2 linked regions of the Homo sapiens genome follow. The protein of the gene in region 2 purifies or fractionates together with the protein of the main gene of each other region. This does not show direct contact. Each region holds a gene or a part of one and is shown on either strand. Other genes may lie near its edges.

Evidence for each region. Proteins that work in one complex are often made in the same cells at the same time.
Region 1: the proteins of POLR2J2 (region 2) and RPAP2 purify together in Homo sapiens (co-immunoprecipitation; one large-scale study listed by IntAct). This does not show direct contact.

The regions. Positions count from the first base shown.
Region 1 is NC_000001.11:92,333,559-92,337,058, reverse strand, and holds part of RPAP2 (putative RNA polymerase II subunit B1 CTD phosphatase RPAP2), read right to left. Parts: intron 713-3,500; coding exon 632-712; intron 1-631.
Region 2 is NC_000007.14:102,664,682-102,669,479, forward strand, and holds the end of POLR2J2 (DNA-directed RNA polymerase II subunit RPB11-b1), read right to left. Parts: intron 4,324-4,798; coding exon 4,234-4,323; intron 2,584-4,233; coding exon 2,409-2,583; intron 1,483-2,408; coding exon 1,450-1,482; 3' UTR 1,365-1,449; downstream 1-1,364. UniProt on the Homo sapiens protein: DNA-dependent RNA polymerase catalyzes the transcription of DNA into RNA using the four ribonucleoside triphosphates as substrates. Component of RNA polymerase II which synthesizes mRNA precursors and many functional non-coding RNAs.

The DNA.
Region 1 (3,500 bases), on a different chromosome or scaffold from region 2:
AATAAGCCATTTAGAGGCTTATTGCTATGCTTCTTGGTAGAGAGAACCTAGTCTTAGCCTGAGTGAGTATTTTTATCTTGATAGTTTTAGGAAAAATCACAACAGTTTCACTCACAATTGATATCAATTCTCTATTCTCCCTTTCTTTATAGTTCTTAGCACTTTAAGTCTGTTCTGTGTAATTCAATATTAAATTGCCCACTGTCTTGTACTGTTTACTGTACTCACATGATCTTCACAGAGGAGAGTTCTTCCTTTAGGGTGGCACTATGTTTCTTTTACATTACCCATAGTGCCTGGTGCAGTGTGGGTCAGCCAATATATATTTACTATTTCACTTAAACCCATAGTATTACTGGCTTTGCATCATAGATATAATTTTCCTTCTCAATTTTAGGCTATTCCGTAAATAAACTATCCAAAGTGAAATATATAATGGCTTGAGCAAATAAAGGTTGCATTCAATAGAAGAGAGAAATAATGTTGTTTAGTGGAGGAGAAAATAGAATACTGTATTTAGATCTGTGACATTGAAAGGTAAGTCACTTACTTTCTCTGTGCCTTTGGATTCTGCAAGGCAATAAATAAAGTCAAAATAATTGAGAAGGATAATTGTAATATAAACACTAACCTGAAAGTTCGAACAAGATTTTTAAGTTGTGTGTAAATATCTCCCAATGTAATCTGAAGAGGAACCAGAAGCCCAGGCAACCTGAAAATTTAAAAATTACATTTATTTTAAAACAAAATTATATGGAAACTTTTTTTGGGTCATGCCTAGATCTGAATTTTCCATAGCTAATAATGGCATTTAGATGGAAGCAGTCATGATTTAAAGGTTAACCTAGGTTATGATTGGTGAGAACTCATAAGGAAACATTCATAGTAACCCCACACTCCACTTTGTAGTCTGTTACTGAGTGTGAAGCACTGAAACACAAAATCATTTTGGCAGCTATTTAAATTCTTGTCCCTAGTTTTACTTACCTGTTTATTTTCAAATATTAGACCAAGATGGAAAGAACACAACTGCCCCCAAAATGGTCCAATCTGAGAGTGTGGTATATTCTTCCTTACTAAATCCCCATGGTGGGAGTGAAAATTAGTACCTTTTTAGGAAGCAATTTGACAATATATATTAACAGTTTAAATGTGTTTGACCCAACAGTTTTACTATGAAAAAAATTTAATCTAAGGAAATAATCAGATGAACATAAAAAATATGCTTGTTGCAGAAATAGCTTTAGTAGTGAAAAATCAGAAACAAATGTGTATCAATAGGTGATTGGTTAGATAAATTATGCTATACCCATTTAATAGAATAAGACATTTAAAATAATGTGAATCTATTTTTTAATATAAAAAGATATTCATGATAGATGTGAAGTGAAAAATGTACATAGTATTATCCTATTTTTATAAAAACATGTATTATATAATACCATTGTACTTCATATATATCAAGCATATTTCATTCCTTCTAGGTTTATCCACAGAGAGAACCAAATAGAATGAATATACATATGCCATATATATGTCAGGGATATACATCAAAATATTAATAGTAGTTATTGTTGAGTGGTGGGATTACAGGTAATTTTTACTTCCTTCTTTAAACCATTTTGTACTGCCTCATTTTCTAAAGTATGTGTTACTTTATTTTTTTAAGCTTCTTTTTAAGACCAGTGTGATAGTATAAAAAGTTTCACACATGTTCCAAAATAGAAAGAATAGTAATAATCCCGTATATCTATTTCCAGATTCAATTTCTTAATTTTTGCTACCTTTGCTTCATTTTTCATTCCCTTCAGCACCCAGGCTGGAGTGCAGTGGCATAATCCAAATGTCAGGCAATAACAAATGCTGGTGAGAAATGTGGAGAAAAGGGAACCCTCATACAGTGTTGGTGGGAATGTAAATTAGTACACCCACTATGGAGAACAGTTTAATCACGAGCATAATCATAGCTCACTGCAGACTCAAACTCTCGTGCTCAAGCGATCCTCCACTTCAGCCTCCTGAGTAGTAGCCCCACAACACCCGATTAATTTTTATTTTTATTTATTTTTTTGAGATGGAGTCTCACTCTGTTGCTCAGGCTGGAGTGCAGTGGTGCGATCTTGGCTCACTGCAAGCTCCGCCTCCTGGGTTCGGGCCATTCTCCTGCCTCAGCCTCCTGAGTAACTGGGACTACAGGCATCCGCCACCACGCCCGGCTAATTTTTTTTGTATTTTTAGTAGAGATGGGGTTTCACCGTGTTAGCCAGGATGGTCTTGATCTCCTGACCTTGTGATCTGCCTGCCTCAGACTCCCAAAGTGCTGGGATTACAGGTGTGAGCCACTGCACTCGGCCGAATTTTTATTTTTATTTTTGTAGAGATGTGGTCTTACTATGCTGCCCAGGCTGGTCTTGAACTCCTGGCTTCAGGTGATCCCCTTGCCTCAGCCTCCCAAAGTTCTGGGATTACAGGCATGAGCCACCACACCTGGCACATTTTTTTCTTATTTTGTAGTAATATTTTAAAGTAAATCCCTGTCGTCATGTCATTTGACCCCTAACTGTTTCCATTTTTATCTCTAAATACAAAGGCACTTTCTTATATAATCACAATAAAATGATCATAACCATCCAAATTAACAATTCCTTAGTGTCATCTAATATACAACATATTTTATTTCCTCTGATACTCTGAAATAAACACTTTTTACAATTGGTTGGTTCAAATAAAAAACCAAAAAAGGTCTAACTTTGATAATGAGAAAAAAACCCAACAGCTTTCATAAACAAACAACAAAAAACTCCTATACCATAATTAGTTTTGTCTTCACTCTTCTTTATGCCTTGGTTAATGTGAAATGTTTTCTGTATTTTCAAACTGCTACAAAATAAAACTTCATATTCACAACCCTTAAATAATGACTGACACACTTTTCCATGTTTTCTGCTAAAATAAGAAAATGCAGGTTGAAAAGTTCAACACAGCCCTCATACCTCTGGGAAAAAAAAACCTTCAAGTTCTTTTTGAAAGAAAAACCAAGATAGCAATTTTTAAATGTCATTTATGACTGGGCTAATTACAAGAACAATAATTTCCACCACGGGAAGTTTAAAGCTAAAGTGCAACGTTGAGTTGAACAAAAACTCATGTTGCTGAGTGTGAAATGGTTCTAAGGATATGCATGCAGAGTGACTTAACAGACCCTTAAAACTTTGTAATAACATCTTATTTGCATCTGAAACTGCTGTGACACATTTACCGCAAATCAGTATTTAAATGGGTCTAGCTTTGATATTTTTTCCCTGACTTCACTGATTAGGTGGGAGTAAGGTAGTTTGGTCTTCTAAACCCACAATCTCAACCTTCCTCTTTATGATGTGCCTCTGTGTCCTCTACACAAAAATTTGTATTTCTTGGATAAAATATCTTAAAAATCCAAATTTCTTAAGTGAAGAAATCCATGTGAACTTTTCACATTATTTTTCAAAATGTTCAAAATC
Region 2 (4,798 bases):
GAAAATCTGCATTCACCTGAGCTCTGGACCTAAGAGAGGACAAGGCCTTGACCATTTCTACAGACTCACAAGATGCAATCTCTGTGGTCCATGCCCGTGGTGTGATCTGGGAAGCAGGGGGCCTTCTAAATGCCAACAACAAGGAAATCAAATGTGCAACAAACAGAAATAACGGCATTGACGTGGGCCATGGAAAGGCCTAAACAGATGACTGCAGTTCACTGCCAAGGTCATCAAAGGGGTGACTCTGAAATAATAAATTTCAGACGCCACGGCCCAAATAGCTGCATGAGGTGGGGAAGTCCTCCACATGCCTCTGCTTCCTTCGGTACCTGTTTATGAAATCAGCCGAGGTACTTCCCTGGGGAATTTCCTTTCTTTCTTTCTTTCGAGACGGAGTCTTGCTCTGTCGCCCAGGCTAGAGTGCAGTGGTGCAATCTCGGCTCACTGCAACCTCTCCCTCCTGGGTTTTAGCAATTCTCCTGCATCAGACTTCTGAGTAGCTGAGATTACAGGTGCATGCCACCATGCCCAGCTAATATTTGTAGTTTTAGTAGAGACAGGGTTTCACCATCTAGGCCAGGCTGGTCTTGAACTCCTGACCTCGTGATCCACCCGTCTTGGCCTCCCAAAGTGCTGGGATTACAGGTGTGAGCCATCAAGCCCGGACTTTTTTTTTATTTTTTGAGACGACGTTTCACTCTTGTTGCCCACGCTGGAGTGCAATGGCACGATCTCAGCTCACTGCCACCTCCTCCTCCCAGGTTCAAGCGATTATCCTGCCTCAGCCTCTCGAGTAGCTGGGATTACAGGCACCCAACACCAAACCCAGCTAACTTATTGTATTTTTAGTAGAGATGGGATGTCACCATGTCGGCCAGGATGGTCTTGAACCCCTGACCTCTAACGATCCACCTGAATTGGTTTCCCAAAATGTTGGGATTACAGGCACAAGCCACTGCGCCCAGCCCCTCCCATACCTCTTTTGGCCAAGGCAGCACAATTCAGAAGAATCTTGCCAGGGAAGACTGGTAAATGGACGTCAACGTGATGCCTATGGCTCCTGGTGGATTTAGATACCTCCTGGTGCTTATTGATATCTTTACCAGTTGCACAGGGGCTTTTCCATGCCAGACTGAAAACGCAGAAGATCAATGATCAACCTTCAACTATTTACTAGCAGAACACTGAGGGGACTGTGCGGTCACCAATACCTCCTATTGCACTTGGATAAACACCTCCCAGGAAATAGAGATGAATAGAAAGGACATAGTCAAACAAGCAGAATGGCTGCATTCCTTCAACCAGAAGGGTCCATTAGTCTGTTTTCACACTGCTATAAAGAACTATGAGAAACTGGGTAATTTATGAAGAAAAGAGGTTTAATTGACTCACAGTTCTGCAGGCTGTACAGGAAGCGTGGCTGGGGAGGCCTCAGGAAACTGACAATCACGGCAGAAGGCGAAGGGGAAGCAGGCACGTCTGGCCATGTTGGAGCAGGAGAGACAGAGAGAGTGAAGTGGGAGGGCTGCACGCTTTTAAACAACCAGATCCCACAAGCGCTCACTCAATATCACGAGAACAGCAAGGGGGAAGTCGGCCCCCATGAGCCAATCACCTCCCACCAGGTCCCTCCCACAACACTGGGAATTACAATTTGACATGAGATTTGGGTGTGGATACAGAGCTGAACCATGTCAAGGGTAGTTCAACCGCTGAGATTGATTGATTGATTGATTGACTGAGATGGAGTCCTGCTCTGTTACCTAGGCTGGAGTGCAGTGGCACAATCTCGGCTCACTGCAACCTCCGCCTCCCGGGTTCAAGCGATTCTCCTGCCTCAGCCTCCCGAGTAGCTGGGACTACAGCACATGCCACCATGCCTAGCTAATTTTTGTATTTTTAGTAGAAACAGGGCTTCACCATGTTTGCCAGGCTGGTCTTGAACTCCTGACCTCGTGATCACCCTGCCTCGGCTTTTCTTTGCTGTGGCTCTTTCCCCTCTAAACTGTTCTAGATTCCCAGGCGCCCTGCTAGGAACAGGTGTGGGCCACCCTGGGGTGAGCTGCCTCCCAGAGGCCTGGAAGGACCAGGCCTTGCCAATCACCGACAAGGGACGTAGAAGAGCACCCCCAAAGGACAGTAGGTCCCCGCCCGGATCTGGCCCACAGCACCCGAGGGACCCTGCAGCACTACAGAAGTCCCATGGGGCAGACGGGAGCCACAGGCCCAGACTCCACAGCCCCTCAGTCCACATGTCCTGGAGCCTGTGGTGGAAGTCCCTGTTCTTCCATCACCGCCGCCTCTCCCTGAGGACCTCCGAAGAAACAGGCCAGGGCTGTCCCAGGCCTGGGCACACGGGCCAGTGTCCAGCCCACCCCGTCTGCCCCTCCAGGCCCCGCCCTCACCCGGAAGCGCTCCTCCAGCAGGGACAGCTCACTGATGAGGTCGGTGATGGCGTTGGTAAAGGCTTCCTGGGGGCTGTAGTCCGGCGTGGTCTGCACTCGGATGATGATCTTGTGCTCCAAGGGGTGGGGGACTTTGTAGCCAGCAAATAGCACTTGCGGGTCTTTTAGGAGTTGTCTGAGGTCCAGGGACAGACAGTGTGAGGGTCTAGCCTCATGCCCAAGCTGGGTAGCAGCCAGCTCAGAGCAGAAGAACAGACTTTCTAGCCAAAAATCCCCCCCAACTTTTTTCCCAAAAAGTCTTCAAGGAAAGTAACACTTTTAGGAAGATACCTCATGTGGGGACACCCTATCCCCGCCACACACACACACTCTGCATCCATGAGGTTGAAGGACCCGAGCTGGAAAGAGATTCCAGCAACCTCTTCCCACCGGGCACCGCAGTGCTGGCAAAGAGATCTCCCAGGCAGTGAATGTCCAGCCAGTGTTCAGTGACTCAGACCCAAAAAGCCCACAAAGAGCATCCACGCAGCAAATAAAGGCAGCAGGAGAGGAGGGCCAGCTCCCGGCAGTGAGTGGAATGCAAATGGAACTCTGCCCTCCGAGCAGCACAGCCGCCAGCGGCTGGCCACGCACACTGGGCCTTGTGCCATGGGGCTGCGTCGCGTACTGTGCCCTGGGCACGCAGGGGTCTCCTCTAGAGCGGCTCAGAGTGGCGTGAGCACCACAAGGGGGACCCGTGCATAGGTGGCAACACTGAGCTCAAGAGCAGGGGAGCAGCAGGGCCCCAGGAGAGCTTGGGTGCCCCACTGGCTGGGCTCCAGGCAGGATTCCTCCATCCCCGTGCCTGACCACACCAGGAGACTGGGCAGACCCCACTCACAGACGGGGAAAAGCCTGGCTTCGCTGGTGGCACCAGAGGGAAGAGCCAAGTCTACAGTAAAATGGCAAGTCCCTGGGCCAGAATGGCAGACACATCCCTGACCAACCACCTGGCTAGGACCTCACTGGTATAAACAAACACCCACCAACCAATGCAGGGTGCCCATTAGGGGCACTGGATAGCCACAGAACTCCTACTTCTTTCTCTTGTTAAATAGAAGTTCTAGTCTCTGCCACATACATCTTAGAGGCCCAGGTGGCACTGAGGTCACAAACGGGTGGCATGAGGGGAGCTAATCTTGACTGCTTTTCAATGTCCCTCAGCATGAATAACAAACAGGCCTACTGTGCTGGAATCTGCTGCTCGTTCATTTACAGAATGTGCACTTAATGGTGAATGTAAGGCCGGGCGCAGTAGCTCACGTCTCTAATCCCAGCACTTTGGGAAGCCAGCAGGTGGATCACCTGAGGTCAGGAGTTCGAGACCAGCCTGGCCAACACAGTGAATCCCCGTCTCTACTAAAAACACAAAAATTAGCCGGGCATCGTGGCGTGGGCCTGTAGTCCCAGCTACTAGGAAGGCTGAAGCAGGAGAATCACTTGAACCCGGGAGGCGGAGGTTGCAGTGAGCAAGATCGTGCCATTGCACTCCAGCCTGGGCAACAAAGAGAGAAAATTCCATCTCAAAAACAAACAAACAAAAAAACAGTGAATGTAAATGCACGTGTTCATCTACAGAATAAGCCACTACAGAAGTGTGGCTTATGTGAAGACATGGAGGTCGGTGTCATTTTGATAAAAAGGTACCAAGATTATAAAATGCCCAGAGCAAGCCCCCAGAAGGACTTCCTGTAGCTCAGAGAGACTGAGGAAGACTTGGAACTTGTGCTTTGCCCAGAGGGGCCCATTAAACATAGCCCCTGAGAGCCTGTGACGGGAAACTTACGATTTAATGATGTTTCCCAGTGTGTGGTCTTCTTTGTTGATGGTGAATAAGCAGGCCTTGGGTACCTTGGTGTCCTTGTTAATGGTGATCCTAGGAAGACACAGAGGCCACAGATGAGGAGCAGGGGCTCCCCTCCTCCCACCCTGAGTCTAAACCCTGTCTCCTCCCGGCCAGGTGTGGTGGCTCGTGTCTGTAATCCCAACACTTTGGGAGGCTGAGGTGGATGGATGACCTGAGGTCAGAAGTTCAAGACCAGCCTGCCCAACATGGCAAAACCCTGTCTGTACTAAAAATACAAAGAAAAAAAAAAAATTAGCTGAGTGTGGTGATCCATGCCTGTAGTCCTAGCTACTTGGGAGACTGAGGCAGGAGAATCACCTGAACCTGGGAGGTGGAGTTGCAGTGAGCCGAGATCATGCCACTGCACTCCAGCCTGGGCAACAGAGTGGAACTCTGTATCAAAAATATAAAAATAAAAAGGAAAAATAAGCTCTGCCTCTTCCTGAAGGCCTTTCTCAATCTCTTCATCCCATAAAGGCCTCGCCAACCCGGTCCCCTACTTCCT